Homo sapiens: one gene and its partners. The protein of the gene in region 1 interacts with the protein of each later gene in a pairwise test. Each region holds a gene or a part of one and is shown on either strand. Other genes may lie near its edges.

Evidence for each region.
Region 2: the proteins of KLKB1 (region 1) and SLFN12 interact in binary tests that used the Homo sapiens proteins (3 or more experiments, as listed by UniProt).
Region 3: the proteins of KLKB1 (region 1) and VKORC1L1 interact in binary tests that used the Homo sapiens proteins (3 or more experiments, as listed by UniProt).

What each region holds. Positions count from the first base shown.
Region 1 is NC_000004.12:186,230,481-186,237,506, reverse strand, and holds part of KLKB1 (plasma kallikrein isoform 1 preproprotein), read right to left. Parts: intron 5,381-7,026; coding exon 5,218-5,380; intron 3,556-5,217; coding exon 3,449-3,555; intron 727-3,448; coding exon 567-726; intron 1-566. UniProt on the Homo sapiens protein: Participates in the surface-dependent activation of blood coagulation. Activates, in a reciprocal reaction, coagulation factor XII/F12 after binding to negatively charged surfaces.
Region 2 is NC_000017.11:35,429,500-35,436,794, forward strand, and holds the start of SLFN12 (ribonuclease SLFN12), read right to left. Parts: upstream 3,002-7,295; 5' UTR 2,689-3,001; intron 1,115-2,688; exon of another isoform or gene 972-1,114; intron 1-971. UniProt on the Homo sapiens protein: Ribonuclease which is part of an E2/17beta-estradiol-induced pro-apoptotic signaling pathway.
Region 3 is NC_000007.14:65,876,049-65,883,074, forward strand, and holds part of VKORC1L1 (vitamin K epoxide reductase complex subunit 1-like protein 1), read left to right. Parts: intron 1-7,026. UniProt on the Homo sapiens protein: Involved in vitamin K metabolism. Can reduce inactive vitamin K 2,3-epoxide to active vitamin K, and may contribute to vitamin K-mediated protection against oxidative stress.

The DNA.
Region 1 (7,026 bases):
AAGTAGGGGAAGAGGATGTCAGGCTTTGAAGATGCGGTACAATTACATGCCAGGGGAAAAGAGTAGAGAAACAAATGAAATTAAATGAATTATTTAATTAAAAAATGAAGGGCGAGGCGCAGTGGCTCATGCCTGTAATCCCAGCGCTTTGGGAGGCTGAGGTGGGTGGATCACAAGATCAGGAGTTCGAGACCAGCCTGACCAACATAGTAAAACCCCGACTCTACTAAAAATACAAAAATTAGCCAGGCATGGTGGCGGACGCCTGTAATCCCAGCTACTCGGGAGGCTGAGGCAGGAGAATCGCTTGAACCCGGGAAGCGGAGGTTGTAGTGAGTCGAGATTACGCCACTGCACTCTAGCCTGGGCGACAGAGCGCGACTCCATCTCAATAAATAAATAAATAAATAAAAGATAAAAAAATAAAATAGAGTAAGTAAATGAGGAAAGTGGTTAGAATAAAAGCCCTGTTTGGTTTTTAGTTTGGGAACAAAAGAGGTTAAGAAGAATACAGTGAAATCCTGGAGGCACCAATACAAAGAACACACACCTTGAATTGTACTCACCGGTACTCTGCCTTGTGAAATGTTTGCGTGGCATATGAAAAAAACTGGCAGCGAATGTTACTGGTGCACCTTTTTTGGCATTCTTCAACACTGCTAACCTTAGACACATTAAAATTGACTCCTCTCATATCAACTCCTTTATAAATGTCTCGATGGCAAGCTGTACAAGAAAAATACATAGAGCAAATACAGTCCATTTTCTTTCTAGAGGTAGATTAGATACCCACTACCATTTGGGTTGGTAGTTTAGAATGATAATAGCCCAGTTTTGGCAACTGCTATATTAACTAAGGGATTTAAAATTTTTATTATGTACATAAATTATCGAACTCTGCTTGAAGTAAATACAATCCAATATTTTCCCTAAAGCACTAGCTTTGAAATTGGGTTACTTCACTTCTTAAACTGCAAGATGCATGCAGCAATACAGGTAAATTTCACGTTGAAATTATCAATGAGCAGTGGGAAATAAACAAGGCAATAATAATGAGGACACTGATAATGTGTGCTGAGGTTTGCATTATTAAAGAAACTGATGTGCCTTTGACCTTTCGCATTGAATGAAAGAGCTTCTCTATCTCCCAGTGTTATTTCTTTGCTTTCGACTTCTCCTGTCTGATGACAAATTGCATCCAGATCAATCATTACAAAATGTGGAGAGTTGTTGTTTACGCATGATGAAACCACTTCCATTCTTGCTTTAAAATAGTGTTAACTTCTATTTAAGCACCCTTTTCATTGAGATTTGTCTTACATGCAAAAGATACAGATAATTCTTTTCACAGACAGTGAAGCAAAATTAGGCTCTTTTTTTTTTTTTTTTTTTTGAGACGGAGTCTCGCTCTGTCGCCCAGGCTGGAGCGCAGTGGCGCGATCTCGACTCACTGCAAGCTCCGCCTCCCGGGTTCACGCCATTCTCCTGCCTCAGCCTCCCGAGTAGCTGGGACTACAGGCGCGCGCCACCACGCCCGGCTAATTTTTGTATTTTTAGTAGAGACGGGGTTTCACCGTGTCAGCCAGGATGGTCTCGATCTCCTGACCTCGTGATCCGCCCGTCTCGGCCTCCCAAAGTGCTGGGATTACAGGCGTGAGCCACCGCGCCCGGCCTCTTTTTTTTTTAAAGATTCAAATTTCTTGGTTAGACTTTTGGTTAAGGAAGTAATGTAACCAGAAGTATAAACTGTATACTTTTTTAAAGTTTTATTCCCCAAGATTATGTGGAATAAACCATAATCTACTACAGATACCTTTCCACTCCTAAGAAGTATGGTTGAAGTCATAAAACTAAATTTAAGGGTGGGAAAGACAGAAAATACACAAACTGTCAGGAAAACTATATGACAGTACGATGAGTTGGGCAGGGAGGTGGATTATTCACTGTGGTTCTTAAACACAGGAATTTGCAGACTGTGGAAACGAAGTCTCTTTCCTATTTTTCTGCATGTGAGAAAAGAACAGGCTAAGAGTTGGGATGCGACTCTTACAAATAAAAACTCTTTAAGTGTTCATACGGAAGCTCTAAATGCTTTTGACTAGAATTGTTCTTGAGTGTAGAGATTTTATGTACTTGGGAACAATTTTTCACTTTAAAAAACATTAAAAGCAAGCTAAGTGAGTAACAGTGAGTTTTAGAATACATGAACAATAACAGGAATATTGAGAAAGGCACAAATTACTTTTTCTTTAAATTTTGCTACAAGATACAACAATCAGAAATAGCACTTACTCGAATAATTTATACCAAATTGGATTAACATAAAAATTGATCTTTTAAAATAGGAAATGTACTCCACCTCACGTAGACTACACCTATTATACTGGCTAAGTCAGGCCCACATTTATAATGAAGGCATTGCCATCCTTTGATAACTGGTTAAAATGCAAACAGCAGGCTCAAAGTGTGTACGTATTGAAGAGGTGATATCAATGAGGGAGGAAAGGATGACAAATTTAAAAACATCTGAAATTTGAACCTACAAAATTAATTGTGCATAATGAAAATAAAATAGTAATGATATATAGTCATACATAGAATAACAGCAGTTATTTTAAGATTCTGACAACCCATCAGTTGAATCTTTTCAGCACTTTTCACTTTCTTATCAGTCCCAGTCATGTTTGAGAAATAGTTCATTTGTCTTAAATTTATTAGGATAGCATTGGAAACTGTTTCCCAAGACATCAGTAGCTTCAGATGTCAGAATCAAAGTTCTCTAGCATCCTAGTCCTCAAGTTTCCTTTAGGAAGTATTATTCTTAGCAAGATTTGCAGAACTCAGTTCTTCAATTTGGGCCTAGTGGTATATCACAGAGTTTCTTGATGTCAGCACTGTTGACGTTTTGGGCCAGAAAATTATTTGCTGTGGACGACTGCCCTGTGCCTTGTAGAATGTTGGTCAGCATTCAAACATTCTGGCCTCTACTTAGTAAATGCTAATAGCATCCTCCCTAGTTGTAGCCACCAAAAATGTCTCCAGACATTGTCAAATGTCCCCAGTGGAAGAGACAAAATCACTGCTGGTTGAGAATCACTGATGTAAAAATTACCCTCAAGTGAACTTGAGAGAGATGTTCCCTTGTGTTTTCTTAAAAATTCTTATCTGGAAACGAGACACAATTATTTGGATTCATTTTCTGCAAATCTTACACTTGAGCGCTAACCTCATAAATAATAGAGGCTCATTAAGTATGTGTTGATTTATAAAGACAATAGAAGTGTCCAGATGAATATGGGTCCCTCTTTTGTGTCCAGAATACTGCCCCATCTCCTATCTTTATGAGTGATGCCTTCCAAAAAGCTGTAGCAGTACAAACTTTGAGCAAAAGCTGTTCTAAGCGAGATCCAATATTAACTCAAATGTAGCTAAGAAATTCACAACTTACCACTTATTTGATGACCACATTGCTTCAAGGAATGTCCAGAAACTGCACCTGTTCGATGTACTTTTGGCAGGGTTCCTGTAACACTATCTTTCAAGAAGCAACCAAACCTATTTTAAAAGTAGCTTTACTTAGGAAGTAGAATAATAAACATACATTGAGGAAATGTCTAGCATTTTCTACACACTAACAAATAAAACCAGGAATAAGGAAAATAATATAGCTTCCCCAATACTTGCTGGAAAGAACACTCTTAGAGCTAATTTTATAACACCCCATAATATCTAACTCCATCACTGCGTTTTCTTTACACTCACATTTTTTAAGTACAGGAAATCAACCATATTAAAGAGTTAATGATTTTTCCTGTGTTCTTAAACTTTCAGGCAACTATGTTCTCAATTGGTAATTATTTTTGCAAATACTTTCATTTACTTAAAAAGTTAACTTAGTGATAAGAGCTGGATTTGTATATCGTGTTCATCTTGCTTATTAACTCCTTGTAGTCTGCACTTAATGGAAGACTTCCCTCTGTCTTAGATGTCCACCTTCATGTTAATTTCATTATTTATAAGAATTCTAGAACCTTCCTCCACTTTTAATATGATGATCCTCACATACAATCTGAGTTTTCTCTACAAGTTTAACATGTGGGATCAGAGAATGACTATCCAATTTCTAGTTGGTAAACTCACATAGAGTGAAGATGAGTAAAGAGTTATGAACATGGAAATGGGAACAACAAAGAAAAGCTTACTCTGGATATTAATCAAAAGGAAAAATCATTAAGATGAAACTGTGGCTCGTGATTAATAAGCATCTCTCTGACCTAATAAAAATTGTAATTACCGCTGGGTGCGGTGGCTCATGCCTGTAATCCCAGCACATTAGGAGGTAGAGGCAGGTGGATCACGAGGTCAGGAGTTCAAGGCCAGCCTGGCCAATGTGGTGAAACCCCGTCTCTACTAAAACTACAAAAATTAGCTGGACGTGGTGGTGCGTGCCTGTAATCCCAGCTACTTGGGAGGCTGAGGCAGGAGAATCGCTTGAACCTGGGAGGTGGAAGTTGCAGTGAGCCGAGATCACGCCACTGCACTCCAGCCTGGGCTACAAAGCGAGACTCCATCACACACACACACAAAATCGTAAGTACTATTTTTCCAATACTTTTACAAATTTCCAGTTAATAATACATATTCACACAAGCACAAGCACACATACACACACACACCATACATAGCATCATGCCACAGGTGCCCAAACTGGCTCACTATAGGCCCCATTTAGAACTGCCCTGTCCCAAAATCACAAGTTCTAGATCTTTCTCAATTACATTCTCAGCAAAATGCTTGTCTTATGTTATTTTCTTTGGACTGTGCTATCCGCTAATGTGATCATGGGTCACACAGTTAAATCTGTTTCTTTATTCAGATGAAATGTGCACCTGTTAGACTCTTTCTTGAGACAATCCCTTAGCCCAATGATATTCAAGCATTTTGAGGCTTTGAATAGAAAATGACTAGCTTCTACTACTTTAAAGAAACACAGTGATTGTTTAAAATGCAGATTCCTGGTCACAAGAAACTTTGGTTCAGCAGATCTGGGTTGTGGCCTAGGAATCTGCATTTGTAAGAACCACTTGACGGGATTTTGCTGAAGCTGGTCCTTGAACCCCGTGTGAGGAAGAACTCTCAGTTATACTACACCTTTCTGCACAAAACTGATTCAGTTTTGAAAAACAGCTTCTCCAATAATGAAATACCAACTTTTACCTTTTCTCCATGTCATTGATTGAACTTGCTGGAAGAAAACTGAATAGCAAACACCTTGGGTGGAATGTGCACCTCATCTGGCAGTATTGGGCATTTGGGGTGTACATGGAAGCTACATCCCCACCTCTGAAGAAGGCGTTTTCATAGAGTTGAGTCAGACATCCTGTGACAGAACCATAAAAATTAATTTGCGATAATTCATATAATAATTTTAATAAAAAGATATCTGTTGTCTTAACTTCTCCCACTGACTGACTACTCAAAGACCTGTATAATACAACTCTAATTATGCTGAGAAAATAAAATATATTAAGGCAACTATTTGAACAATGTATAGTGTTATTTAATTTTCTGGGTACTTCTGTATAAAACATTGGCTTATTTTCATTAAATTGCACAATAATTTGCACATAAATTCCCCACAATAAAATAAAATCCTAACTTAGTTTTTTCCTGTTGCCTGACATGCTATGAAAACATCATGCCTTAAAAAGAATAATATTTGCTCTATTTTCAAAACACTTTTGTAACAAACATCTCCACCAGCTTCTCACAATTCTGTAAGGGAAATTAGAGGCAGGCTTTGTTATCTGCATCTGGACTATGTTTTTTAAAAGAAAGTTAAATAACTGAGTCTCAGGGCACACAGACTTGCCCAAGATCCACACAGTTAGTGAAAGTCCTGTGACGGTCACCCAGCCCTGACTCCCAATCCTGTGTCCTTTTCTAGCATGCAATGCTAAACATTGTTCCTCATCTCAGTATGATTGAAACAAACTGACAGTATTTTTTACTCATTTTTAAGACAGTTTAAGCAAATGCATGCATATGCTAAATTGAAAATAAATTTTGAACTATTTGCTGTTTGGAATTATTCCCAGCTCTAAAATATACTGCACCCCACATATTATTAGAGAATTCGGTGTCTTTACTGGCTTTAATTTGTAAATTTGGATTTACCGGGAAAGACTGTCTTTGAAATCTGGTTAATAAGCTTTCCTGTTCAGGTAGCACATTCATTTCAGTTGTCAACTGGGACCATTAACCATGGCTATTCCAATGACAACCTGTCCATTCCCTGGGGCAGTAGTTACTCTTCAATTTAAATAGTACCTATTTTTTATTGCCTTTGAGGGAGTGGGCAGCTTAGACCACGTGCATTTTATTAAGCACTGGAGAGTGCCATCTTCTCTGCACTATCCTACCCCCTGGGGATTTGGCCCTGAGCCCCATTATGACCACCCAACCCAACAAGACTGCCTCTCTCCCTCTCTGAGGTGTGGCCAAGATGACCACCTCTCGGGTAAGGTTTATATTTGGAAAGAGCACAGATCTCTTCAAGTGGAAGCTTTTGGGAATACAAGTGTATTGCCTAGATTTCATGTATGCACAAAACATGGAGGAGTTGGTTTAGTGACAATACTAGTTACAAAAAGGCCTATTTTTTTCAGACAGTTGGTGGTTTTGACTGACTCATAATTATCAAGCAGTCACTCCTCTTCCAGCCCCCAGTTCCCATGCAAGGATGCATACAATGGCAGGTCCTGGCCCAGAGCTTCTCATTCTGCAACTGAGCCTCTGTGAACTGCTATGTGACAGTCAGGGAAGGGAGTGACTAGAAAGACACCAATTTTGTTGCTGAATGGAAAGAAACTTCTAGTAGGTGTTCTTGCTTATCCTCATAAGTTGGTGATCATGATGATAATGATGACCATGACAATGATAGCTGTGTCTGTGCTGTATTTTGGAGCCTATGTAAAGTACTATTATATAATTTATCTCATAATGATGGTGGCTTTCAAAGCTTTT
Region 2 (7,295 bases), on another chromosome or scaffold:
ATGTTTCCACTGAAATCCTTTATACTTTTGACTATAGGGGAAATTCTATCAGACCTGAACTCACTATTTAGGCTTTGTTGTTGGCTATCTTTAATGGGAAAGGAGACAGCATTCAGATCTCCTTAGAGTTATGTCAGAACAGCAGGTTAGTAGGAACTGCCCACAGGGTGGGACAGAAGTTGTAAGAGCTACCTCCTGGGAAACAAAAATCATGCAACACTCTTTGCCCTCCTAGGATGTCACTTTGCATTTAGTTCAGGACAGCACTGCTCTCATCCTTCCCGCCTTCTAGATAATAAACCAGCAGGGCATGAGGGTGCTTGGTTTTTCTTTTAGGATCTAGCAATGCAGTTCATCAGTGCCTGGTCGCATTTCACCTAAAGAACCTATTCCCCAACTCCCTGCATGTTCAGGACTCCAGGAGGATGGATAACCCTGGGAGGTCTGGACACCCACCAAGCCTGGCCTGACCATAGAGCACTCTGCCCTCCCTGCCTCTCTAGCTCTGCTTGAACACTGCAGATCCCTGGCTCACTGGCCCCACAGCTCTTTAAATTTTCTGGTAATGCTTTAAATTTTCTGGGCTGCTCCCCAGCCCATGCAGGAGCAAAAGTTCCACCCGACCTATAGCTTCCAAGTCCACCATTCTGAAGTCCTCAACAGCCTGCAGTTTATTAGAAGTTGCTACAGAGACAGGAAAGTGTTACCGGTGGAGGGTGTCCTGCTCACTGAAACATTCTGTTTGCAGGAGAAAAACAAAAACTTGGTCTGTTCTAGGATCTATGTGTTTCCTTAAAGTCTTAGAATGAGCAACTCCATTTTGGTTTGGTTTGGTCTGTTGGGGCCATGAGCTCAGTCCAAAACACTGGCCTTTCACAATTTTGTTTTTTAAAATTCCCCCTTTTTGTTCAGGTTCTCACTTAGGTGAGAATGTAACCAAAACGTAAGGCCTTAGCGCCGCTCTCAGTTACCATCATTTTGGGTTTCCAGTCTCAGCACACCATCCATAGGTTACAGTGTCCTCATGGTCGCATATTTGTTTCACTTCTCATCATTCCAGTTGAAGAGAGACCATTTGACATTCTAGAGATGGCTGCATGCAAACATCGAAAACCTTTGAGAGAATACAGTGCACCAGGGAGCCTATTATTATGATGACTATTGGGAGGATAATACCAAGAGTTTGGAGGATGCTCCTTGCCCAGGGTTCCCATAAACCAAACCAGTTAAAATTAAATAGATCAAATAATGAACTAAATAAAGAATCTACCAACTTAAGTAAACAATCTCCTCATTAATCCCCTACAACTGAATCTCTTAATCTTCATTTAATGTATTTCTCCATAGACTCTAAGTGCCAGCAGCTGCACAGATACTTCTCTGTTCAGCCAATTCTATCATAACTTTCACAAAAGAATTTAAAGTCTGTTGTGTAACTATGGCCTTTACAGTAGATGTTCTGAGAACATCTATCCTATGGGTTCTAGGTTGTGAAGGGGTTGATTGTTCTCAGTGAACCATAAAAAGCTTTCTTTACCTGGTGAAAATACACTGTAGCATAATCATGGGAAAAGCTTTTATACAACAAGAAAACATGCATTGAAAGTGACATTGAATAAAATCCCTTTGTAAATGTTTAAATGGCCCATCGGGTAGCCAAATGTACCTGAAGCTTTGATTGTCTTCCCAGGAATATGGATTTGAGAAACCAAACATTGGTTATAAACAACTTTAGCAATTTATAAGTCAGCGGTTTCCATGGCAGTTTGATTTTTAAAGGTCAAACTTCCTCGCACTTCAAAGAACGCTGAGGCCAAACAGCACCAAAGGAGAACATCACACTTTAACCCGACACAACCCTGCTTAGAACAGCAGCACAAGAGCCTGCATACATGCAACTCCATCCCACTTTACCATTCAACAGCAAACTCCAGATTCCAAACAATATTGAGGCCAAACACTACTGCAACCGGAAGAGAAAATTCTAAGGAGGGCTTAGTACTAGGCCTAAGAACCTCTACCAAAGGAACCCCCTTGGAGAGGCTGAGGTCCAAAGGATCCTCCAGAGCATCCCCCTTTAGGGTCCAATCTTAGAGCGTCAGACGTCTCTGACCTTAGGTGGTCACCAGTGCCACTTTACATGTTTTCCCTCCAGAGGGGATGGCCTACTGTGAGCTTTCCTTTTGTCTCTGGATGAAGGCCTTGACTTCTAGCATCCTTATAATTTGATAAGGCCATGCTTTCCCATGGTTCCCATTCCACTAGAGTGATAGTCATGAACTTTAATGATATGAAATGGAGGCTAGGTGGGTTTCTTTTAACCTTAGCCAGTAGAGTAGGGGAAGGGAAGAATTTAACATAAGGAAAGAAGGTTTAAGTCACCTGAAACACGTGTGAGTTCGCCCTGGAGAAGCTGCGTCACACATAGGGATCAGGGACCACAACCAGAAAAGACAGAAAAGAGCCCTTCCCGCTTCTGGGCAGGGCAACTATCCCCATTCACTCCTTGGCCTTCAAGGCAGCACTGGAGAGTAGCCCCCGGCCAGAAACCTGCAGTCGCCTCCGTGTCTAGGCGCTACCCACCAAGGATCCCACGTTGGAAAGGAAAAGAGAAAGAGAGAGATTTACCTGTATGGAGCAGAAAGGAAAAGGGAAAGGAGAAAAATAAATCCCAGACTTTGGGCTTACCTCCTGGTTGGCTTGCCAAAATATGTTACCAGTGAAGAGTGTCCAGGTTCTTGGCGTGTTGAACAAAGAACTGGACAAACACACAAACAAAGCAAGGAAAGAATGAAGCAACAAAAGCAGAGATTTATTGAAAACGAAAGTGCACTCCACAGGGTGGGAGCAGGCCCGAGGATAGCGGCTCAAGAGCCCGGTTTCAGAATTTTCTGGGGTTTAAGTACCCTCTAAAGTTTTCCCACTGGTTACTTGGTGTGCACACAATGTAAATGAAATAGGAGCCCGAGATCAGTCTGAATGGTTGCAGAAAGCGATCAATGGGAGGCTGAAGTGAAGTTACAAAGTTATGCCCTATGAAAACATCTGATTGGACGCAGAAAGCGAAGTTACAAAGTTACATTCCTATGCACATGAAGACTTGGCCCTGGAGACCAGTCTGATTGGTTGCGGGAGGGGACCAATCAGAGGTATTTTCAGTTTTTCATCTGCCATGTAGAAAAGGAGGGGCTACAAAGGAAGTTTGTGGAAAGTTGGGATTTTCCTCCAGACCCTTATTCTCCTGCTTCAGAAGGGAGAGAAAGCAGACCGGGATGGGGGTGCGGGGATCTTCCCGGGAGTGGTGGGGTTGTGTTACCAGTGCCCCACCTCCTCCCGAGCCAGCAGACTCCCCAGAAATGAAAAACTAAGGCTGGAAGGTTTAGCGATGGAGCAGGACCAACTTACCAGCTCGCGGTGCTCCCTAGAAGCTGGATTCTTCGCAGGTGCGAGCACACCCCAGATGCCAGCGTGGACCCTTGAGCAACTGGAAGTTAAAAACCCACGAAAACAGCTCTGAGTGATCTCTAGGGAGCTCTCGTTTCTTTTTCACCCATGTGTATTTTTTAAGACAAAAAGAAAAAAGGTAATTTAAAGAAAACAAAGAACAAAGGAACTTGGCGAGGCCCAGGCTACAGTCCGCGGGCTCACTCTCCACAGAGTAAAAAGAACGCGAATCCTTTTCTGTTTTCCGGCCCTCCCCATCCTGGGCTGCGGCTCCACACTTCCCCAGCGTGGCCTGCATTTCTATTGGGCAGCTGGCGCTCCGGAAGTGTCCGCACTCTTTATTATCGACTCTGCGCCTTTGGGCAATTGTCACTATTTTGGTTCATCAAAATTGAAGAAATACCAGGCATTCTTACCATGCCCCTAAAGGGGTGACTCAACCTTTCCAGCTGTACTCGCATTCCCAGAGCAGCACTGCTGCCCCCTTGCTTAAAAGCACGGTTGCCCCCAGGAACCAGGCCAGGGCAGCTGTGGATGGACAGGAGAGGACAAAGGTGCAAGGAGCGGATTGCTCCAGGACAGACAGATTCAAATACCTACCCCTGGCAGTGTAGGGAGCATCTTGGGGCCATTTGGGAGATTCCTTTATTGGGATGCTCCAAAGGCTAGTCTGGCCGGATACAGTCCTCCTGCCACTTTGCTTTCCTTTAGCCCCCTTATTATGATAATTATGGTAATACATGTTTTTCCTGCTAACTTGTCTAAGAATTGGTGTCTCAGTACATAGCTTTTGAAATGCACACAGGCCACGATGACTCATCACAGGGGAATGTGCAAGTCTGAGTTGCTCCTTCTCCGCAAGCTCCACCTACCCCACTCTGGACTGCATTAACTGCCTACTGCCTATTCTAAAATCTTAAGGTACCTAGGAAGAGTACCTATTCACATTAAATAACGTATATATTGAAAGCACATAGCTGCGCTTTTCTTCTTCTCATCTGATCCAGACGCCAGCTCTATGGATACAGTCTCACCGAAGTTAAAAAACTATTCTTCAGTCATTGGCTTAGAAAATGCTAGTGCCGGCTGGGAGCAGTGGCTCATGCCCATAATTCCAGGACTTTGGGAGGCCGAGGTGGGTGGATCACCTGAAGTCAAGAGTTCGAGACCAGCCCAGCCAACGTAGTGAAACCCCCGTCTCCACTAAAAATACAAAAAAAATTAGCCGGGCGTGGTGGCAGACCCCTGTAATCCCAGCTACTAGGGAGGCAGAGGCAGGAGAATCAGTTGAACCTGGGAAGCGGAGGTTGCAGTGTGCTGAGATCATGCCACTGCACTGCAGCCTGGGCAACAAGAGCAAAACTCTGTCTCGGGGAAAAAAAAGGAAAGAAGAAAGAAAGAAAGAAAGAGAGAGAGAGAGAAAGGAAGGAAGGAAGGAAGGAAGGAAGGAAGGAAGGAAGGAAGGGAAAGAAAGAAAGAAAGAAAGAAAGAAAGAGGAAGGAAGGAAGGAAAGGAAGGAAGGAAGGAAGGAAGGAAGGAAGGGAGAGAAGAGAGAAAGGAAGGGAGGGAGGGAGGGAAAGAAAAAAAGAAAGAAGAGAGAGAGAGAGAAAGAAAAAGAAAGAAAGAAAGAGAAAGAAACAAAGAAAAAAAGCTAGCGCAGGCCGGGTGCGGTGGCTCACGTCTATAATCCCAGCACTTTGGGAGGCCGAAGTGGGTGGATTGCCTGAGCTCAGGAGTTGGAGACCAGCCAGGGCAATATGGTGAGAGGGCATAGTCGTGCGCGCCTTGGTAGTCCCAACTACTGTGGTGGACTGGGGAGGGTGTGGGGGCGCTGAGGCATGAGAATCGCTTGGATGGAGGCAGAGGTTGCAGTGAGCCAAGATCACACGGCTGCACTCCATCCTGAAAGACAGAGCAAGGGATTCTATCTCAAAAAAAGAAAAAGAAAAAAAAGAAAAGAAAAGAAAAAGAAAATGCTAGTGCAGGGATTTTCCCAGAGCACCAGGATGGCTTCCAAGGCAGAAACAAAAGACATTAAGAAGTTGTTCCCATGGGAATGTGTGTGGCAGGCATGACATATCAGATCAACTTGGAATAGAAAATGCATATCCCAAAAGGCCCCTCAAAAGTGAGCAGAGTAAAAACATTCACAGAACTTTTAAATTATGTTTTTATTAACTATTGAGTAGAAACAATATTTATAGAATACATATAAGGTATAAAGAACAAAAGTATGAACATCTGTGAACCCCTTACACGGCTAAAGAATATTAACAATAAGCCTCTCCTCAGAGGTAAAACACCATATCAAAGTTTACATTGAACCTTGTGTTGCTATTCTTTATAGTGTTTTGCGGGGAGGGGGTTGGGGGGTTGTTCTGGTTGTTTTTAGCCCACTGCAGCCTTCACCTCCTGGGCTCCAGTGATCCTCTCACCTCAGCCTCCCAGTAGCTGGGACTACAGGCACACACCACCAAACCCAGCTAATTTTTAAATTTTATTTCATTTTATTTTATTTTTTGTAGAGCCAGGATCTTGCTATGTTGCCAAGGCTTGTCTCTAACCCCTGGGCTCAAGTGATTCTCCTGCCTTGGCCTCTGGAAGTGCTGAGATTACAGGTGTGAGCCACCATGCTGGCTTGCTGTTTGTTCATGCTGTAAATTCCCTTTGTTGATTTCCAAAAGTGTTTTTATACTTCTAAGTTGCTGAGAGTCCTTATTATGAATGGATGTTGAACTTTATCAAAAGCTTTTTCCTCTATTCAGATGATCATGTGATTTTTCTCTTTTGAACTCTTAATCTGTGGTGAATTACACTGATTAATTTTTTTTTCTTGGAGACAGGGTCTCAAACTGGCACCCAGGCTAGAGTGCGGTGATGCAGTCACAGCTCAGTGCAGACTCAAACTTCTGGCCTGAAGGATCTTTCCTCCTTCAGCCTCCAGAAAGTCTGGGATTACAGGAGTGAGCCACCTCACTGGGCCTGATGATTGATTTTTTAACGCCAAAATCAACGTTGAATTCCTGACTTGAACCACCTTGGTCGTGGTGTATTATCACTTTTACAAATTGTTGGATTTTGTTTGCTAAAATTTTGTTTAGAATTTTTCATGTAGATATTTGAGTGATAATTGAGTGACCTGCAATTTTCCTTTCATACTTTACCTATCAGACTTGTTATCAAGATTATGCCAGCCTCATGAAATTAGTTAGGAACTGTTTCCTCTTTCTAGGAAAGCATTTGAATAAGACTGAAATTCTCTAGGACTGAAATTCTCTCCTCCTTAAACTTGCTTGTTAGAACCTGCTGTGACAATGGTTACAGAATTTCTGCTTTGATCCACGAGTTAAACACTTTTTTAATTCCAAAAGATATGAACATTTTTCTAGTTACCGTTTTATTACTAGTTTATAATGTATTTGCATGTGGGGTCAAAGAATGTGATCAGTATCAGTTCTCTGAACTCTTTGAATAATTACTTTTTAATTAGAAAAAAATCTCAAATATTATGCGTTCAGAAGCAAAAACACCCCCCCTCCACACACACACACACACACACTTTATTAATTACAAAAAGCAAATTGTAACTGCACAGTAGGGAAACCTGGCAGACGCCACTTTATCCAAATGATCAGAGTTAACATCATCAGGAATGGAACTAATCACTATCAAGTGCCTTCTAATACCGTGAACTGAGAACCGTAACAGCCCTTCTATGGAATTCATGCCAAAAATGCATAACCTGAATCTAATCATGAGAACACATGAAATGACCCAAAATCAGATACTCTGCAAAATAATAGGCCAGTCCTCTTCAATAGTGTCAAAGATATGACAAAGACAGATTAACA
Region 3 (7,026 bases), on another chromosome or scaffold:
TAATGATGGAAAGTTCCAGATTTTATATTTCTAAAGAAATATTTCACCGAAATTAGTAGGCTACAATAGAAATGCTGATTTTTCAATTCTACCATGTACAGCCAGTAAAAACAATAACACACCACTATCTCCTGTCACCATCATTTCATTTAACAAAAGGATATTTCCATTCAAACAATTTGAAAGAACAGAATCTCTCAGAATAAAATATTTTTAAATGGAATCATTTAGCTATATGGAAAAGTTTACTTTCAGACCAGCCTGGCCAACATGCTGAAACCCCGTCTCTACTAAAAATACAAAACAAGCTGGGCGTGGTAGCATGCACCTGTAATCCCAGCTACTCGGGAGGCTGAGGCAGGAGAATCACTTGAACCTGGGATGCAGAGGTTGCAGTAAGCCAAGATCGCGCCATTGCACTCCAGCCTGTGTGACAGAACGAGACTCTGTCTTTAAAAAAAAAAAAAAAAAGTTTACTTTCGTGTCCTTACTTTTTCCCATTTTCCCATAAATCGGTGAAAACTCTGCTGCAAACCTGCACCAGCCTGCCAGCTAACATTCAGTTAGCAGTCCCTGCCCCCTTGGTTTGGTACACTGAGCTCAAATCTAAGGGATCTGGGTGGGCTTCCACCTCTCCCAGTTCTTAGGCTTGTGGCCTTATCTTCATGGTGCCTCAGTTTCTTATGTTAAATAGGGCTTTTAACACCTACTTAGGGCCTGGTGCAGTGGCTCACACCTGTAATCCCAGCAGTTTGGGACGCTGACACCTGGCAGACCTCTTGAGCTCAGGAGTTTCAGACCAGCCTGGGCAACAGGGCAAAACCGTGTCTTTACAAAAAATACAAACGTTAACCGGGCATGGTGGCGCATGCCTGTATTTCCAGCTTCTTGGGAGGCTGAGGTGTGAGGATCACTTGAGCCTGAGAGGCTGAGGTCTGCAGTGAGCCATGATGGTGCCACTGCACTCCAGCCTGGGTGGTAGAGAGAGACCCTGTCTCAAAAAAAGAAAAACAAAAAAACCTACTTTGCCAGATTAGTGTTACGATGAAAAGTGATACATGTATGTTCCTGAAATAAAGCCTGTCCTCAGTTATAGCTGTTACCATTGATTGGAGATGTTCTTTTTTTTCCAGTGTTTGATAATAAATGCCTTTAAGTATAAGTTTCTTGTACATACTTGTTTATATGTTTAAACATTAATTGTTTTAATGTAGTTTATTGCTGACTTTATAGCATAGTATAAAGATGTGTTCATTTAAAACAATTTTGAAGTTGTGCAAGAGAAACTAATGCAGAATATTCTTTTTTTTTTTTTTGATGGAGTCTCGCTGCTCTGTCACCCGGACTGGAGTGCAGTGGCATGATCTCAGCTCACTGCAACCTCCACCTCCCGGGTTCAAGCGATTCTCCTACCTCAGCCTCCCAAGGAGCTGGGATTACAGGTGCCCACCACCATGCCCGGCTAATTTTTGTATTTTTAGTAGAGACAGGGTCTTGCCATGTTGGCCAGGCTGGTCTTAAACTCCTGACCTCAGGTGATCTGCCTGCCTCAGCCTCCGAAAGTGCTGAGATTATAGGCATCAGCCACCGTGTCCAGCTGTAATATGCAGAATATTCTATGTAGGTATTTTCTATATATAAGACCCCCTCTAAGAAGGGTTTCTATGTAAGAATAGTACAAATGATCTGGAAAGGTTAATAGGCTTGACAAATCTATGTTTCTTAAAACTGTAAAAATAGTCTGGTTGTCCTATGGTCTATGTATAGAACATATACCATAGGGGATTGGTTTCAGGACCCCTGTTTTTACTGAGATCCTGGCATACTCAAGTCCCCACTGTGGGCCCTGCAGAACCTGAATGTGAAAATTTGGGCCTCCATATATGCAGGTTTCGGTCTGCATTTGGTTGAAAAAGATCCACGTATAAGTGAGCACACACAGCTTAAACCCGTGTTGTTCAAGGGTCCACTGCATTTGAAAATCAAGTCCATAAAAAAGTTGCCTTATTTTACAAAATGTCGGATTACTACCTCTCCCATATCTTAAAAAAAAAGTACCATCTATTTACTACCCCATTGAGATAATAAAACTTTTAGAATTAGAATAGAACCTAGGGCTGGGCATAGTGGTTCACGCCTGTAATCCCAGCACTTTGGGAGGCTGAGGTGGGTGGATCACCTGAGTTCAGGAGTTTGAGACCAGCCTGGCCAATATGGTGAAACCCCTTGTCTACTAAAAATACAAAAAATTAGCCGGGCATGGTGGTGGGCACCTGTAATTCCAGCTACTCGGGAGGCTGAGGCAGGAGAATCACTTGAACCCGGGAGGTGGAGGTAGCAGTAAGCCGAGATTGTGCCACTGCCCTCCTGCCTGGGCAATAAGAGGGAAACTCTGTCTTACAAAAAAAAAAAAGAACCTAGAAGTATTTACTGCTCTTTGCTTTGTCTGAGACTCAGAGGTTAAGTGACTTGCCCAAGATAGCACAGGTAGTAGCAAATTGAGACTTGACACCTGGCTTCCAGAGTACTTATTTAAAGTCCCCTTTGCACCCCCATTTTAAAAATTAAATTCTTGGCTGGACGCAGTGGCTCACGCCTGTAATCTCAGCACTTTGGGAGGCCGAGGTGGGCGGATCACGAGGTCGGGAGATCAAGACCATCCTGGCTAACATGGTGAAACCCCGTCTCTACTAAAAATACAAAAAAAATTAGCCAGACATGGTGGCACACGCCTGTAGTCCCAGCTACTTGAGAGGGGCTGAGGCAGGAGAATCACTTGAACCCGGGAGGTGGAGGTTGTGGTGAGCTGAGGTCGTGCCACTGCACTCCAGACTGGGTGACAGAGTGAGACTCTGTCTCAAAAAAAAAGAAAAATTAAATTCTTGTCTAGGTAAGGCATTCGCTGCTTCGGATTTGAAAGATAACAAAGCATGTACAGTGAAAAGTCTCCTTCATATCCCTTCCACCAGACAGTTCTCCCGCTCAGTAGACCGCTGTGAAACTTTTCAGAGCCGTTTGACACATAGACAAACATCCACGTGACCATATGATTCCTCCCTTTTTTTAACATGGAAGTATCACGTATGCATCCTTATTGATAGCCTGCTTTTTGCTTGGCATTCGTTCCATTGCTCCCATACTTTAAATGCTTATGTTCATATTTAGTGAAATGTTAATAACTGCTAGTACGTAAAAGAGAATTTGTTCTAGTAGTTTTGACTAACCAAGATAAATTTCAGAAATAAAATTCTTAACATTATCATTGTTTCTTGGTATGGAAATTTCAGAAGCAGGTTGAACTGAAAAGAGTCCAAGAGGAATAGAGAAATATCACAAGGAAGTGAATCTGGACTGTAGTAGAGATAAATGTTAATACTTACAGATAATGCTTACTATGTGCTAGGCAGTGTTCTAAATGTTTTGCATACATTATTGAAGTCTCTCAAGAGTCCCATGAGGCAGGTAGCTTTTATCACCATTTTACACATGAGAAAACTGAGCAACGCAGACTAACACTTGATCCAGGTAGTACAGTGGCAGAGGCCTGATTCTAACCCAGGCAGTCTGGCTCAAGAGTCCAAGCTCTTTACCACTACTCTTTCGTCTTCCTTTCTTCCTTTCCCTCCCACCCTCCTTCTTCCTTTCCTTTCTTTTCTCTCTTTCTTTTCCTTCCTTCTTTTCTTTCTTTTTCCTTCCTTCCTTCCTTTTCTTTATTTTTCCTTCTTCCTTCCTCCTTCGTTCCTTGCTTCCTTCTTTCCTTTTCTTTTTCTTTCCTTTCCTTTTTTTTTCTTTCCTTTCTTTTCTTTCTTCTTTAACTTTTTGAGACATTGTCTCACTCTGTCTCCCCAGGCTGAGTGCAGTGGTGCAGTCATGGCTCACTGCAGCCTCAACCTCCCTGGGTCAAGTGATCCTCCAACCTCAGCTTCCTGAGTAGCTGGGTCTACAGTTGCACACCCCACCATGCCTAGCTAATTTTTTCTATTTTTCATAGTGACGAGGTCTCACTTTGTTGCCTGAGTTGGTCTCAAACTCCTGGCCTCAAGCAGTCTTCCCACTTGGCCTCCCAAAGTGCTGAGATTACAGGTGTGAGCCACCACGCCCAGCCTTTTACCACTACTTTAAATTCCATTTAGATCTAATATTGATAGAGTGATAACCATATCAACCAGATTTTTTAAATATGCAAACAATGGTGCCAGTTTCTGTATCTATGTGACAAAAATATATAGAGTTTGTGGTATCACTTTTACCTGTTTAGAGCACTCTTTGGAAAGGCAGGGAAATTACTGTGAAGGTATTGGTATTCCAGAAGTAAGTTCCTGGAGTGTTTGCCTTCTAAGGTGTGAGGACGTGGTTTGTCACACCCAGTTAACTAACAGATAGACGGTGTAGTGAGCTGTCCGGAAGACTTAGCAGGTTAGCCTAGGGAGGAAGGAGAAAGGGGTTCTGGGCACATGGAGGGAGGGGGAGGGAAAAGAGTTTGTTTGAATCTGTCCTAGATTGGGGTAGCTTTTTCGGAGGGAGGCCTTGTCGTGTGGACCTGCTGCATATAAAGACAGGAGAATTGGACCTGAGGTGTGGTGCTAGCTAAAGCGCCACACAGATCTGGGAATTTAAGAGGAGTTCATTTCCTCAATCATTAGGAAGAACTTGAAAGGGTAGCAAACTGTGGTCATTTGAGAAGAACAGCAAGTGGTCATATTTGAATGTAACATATTCAACTGGGTTGGGAAAGAACCAGAATCTAGATCTTGCCCATAGCAAGTGCAAAACCAGGCGTTCTTATAAACCATGTACTCTTGTAAACACTGATAAGACATAGCACTGAGTCCTGAGCTTTTCTTCTATAAAGTTATTGTACAGGTTGAGGATCCCTAATCCGAAAATCCAAAATCTGAAATGCCCCTGTGAGCATTTCCGTTGAGTGTCATTGGCACTCAAAGTTTTGGATTTTGGACCATTTCAGATTTTGAACTTTCAGATTTGGGATGCTCAACCGGTATATAATGCACATATTCCCAAATCTGAAAAAATCCCAAATCCAAAGCATTTCAGCTCCAAAGTGTTTCAGATAAGGAATATTCAACCTGTACTACATTGTACTAGGCTTGTATTAGATTCCCAGTTTTCAAAATTTGTATCTCAGAATCCCTGTTCTCTGTCAATGAAACAGGGATTTCATACACCTTTGATTCACATTTTAATGTTTTAAGTTTAAAATATTATAAATGTTTATACACAGTCAAATGAATCTCATGCTAAATTTTAATATATTAGAGACAACTGATTTGTCTGCCAGGTTATCTCAAGAGAGTTAATACTGAGTGAAAACAAGTGAGAACCCTAAAAGATTACATACTGTATGATTGCATTTATGTAACATTATTGAAATAACAAACCTGCAGAGATGGAGAACAGATTTAGTGGTTGCTAGGAGTTAGGAATGGGAGGTGAGGGGTGGTGTGGTTATAAAGTGGTAGCATGAGGGAGCTGTGTAGGGATGGAACAGTTCAATGTCTCAGGTGTGATTATACAAAGCTGCAAATGTGATAAAAACTTCATACAACCACACACACACATACTGCATATAAATCCTAGCGTACTCAAGTCCCATTTTGCATACAAAACTGGTGAAACCTGAATAAACTCAGGATTGGAGGAATTTGGGCGAGGGTACTTGGGACCTCCCTGTGTACTTTTTTGTAAATTCCTGTGATTTATAATTATAGTAATTTTAAAATAAAAAGTTGGCCAGGCACAGTGGCTCATGCCTGTAATCCCAGCACTTTGGGAGGCTGAGGCGGATGTATCACGTGAGGTCAGGAGTTCAAGACCAGCTTGGCCAACATGGTGAAACCCCATCTCTACTAAAAATACAAAAATTAGCCGGGCATGGTAGTGGGTGCCTGTAGTCTGAGCTACCTGGGAGGCTGAGGCAGGAGAATCACTTGAACCTGGGAGGCAGAGGTTGCAGTGAGCTGAGATCATGCCACTGCACTCCAGCCTGAGCGACAGAGCAAACTCTGTCTCAAGAAAATAAAATAAAATAGACTGGGTGTAGTGGCTCACGCCTGTAACCCCAGCACTTTGGGAGACTGAGGCGGGTGGATCACCTGAGGTCGGGAGTTGGAGACCAGCCTGACCAACATGGTGAAACCCCATCTCTACTAAAAATACAAAATTAGTCGGGCATGGTGGTGCATGCCTGTAATCTCAGCTACTCGGGAGGCTGAGACAGGAGAGTTGCTTGAACCCAGGAGGCAGAGGTTGCAGTGAGCCAAGATCACGCCATTGCACTCCAGCCTGGGCAACAAGAGTGAAACTCCGTCTGAAAAATAAAATAAAATAAAATAAAAAGTAAAAAAGCAAAAAAAAAAAAAAAGTGCATTTAGAATATTTGAGAGAAAATAAGCAAAAGGAAGAAAATGTAAATTATCTATAATGCTTACACCCAGGACAATAATCCTTGGAATAGAGTGTCTCACTTTGTGTATAGAAATGAAACTTTTAAAATGCCATTTTATTTTTTAATTAAAATTTTTTCTTTCCTTTTTTTTCCTCCTCAGAGTTAGAAAGGATAAAAATGTTATTGATTAGTAAGACTGTAGCTTTATGTTGATATTTTGAAATTTTAGGCTAGTGCTTGTTTGTTCATGTAACATATAAGCACATTCAGTACTATTAGAACTGTTGCATTATGCAATAACATGACTGCCTAATGCATATATCAGGATTAGTACATATTGTAAAGTTTTTATTTTTTACCAAAATGTTTACGACTACCAAGTATTCATTCCTTAACACTATTACATAATTAATTTAGAAATGTTTTACTTTTAAAACTTCTGGACAGGTGTAATTAAATCCTTAGATAGCGTTAATGTACTATTTAAAAAACACACACAAAACATTATCATTGGCAAAACATGCTTTATCATCTATTCATCTTTGTGAATCCGGTTTTTCTTGATACCATGCCATCAAAACAAAACAAATTTGACATAAGACTGCCCAATCATCCATAAT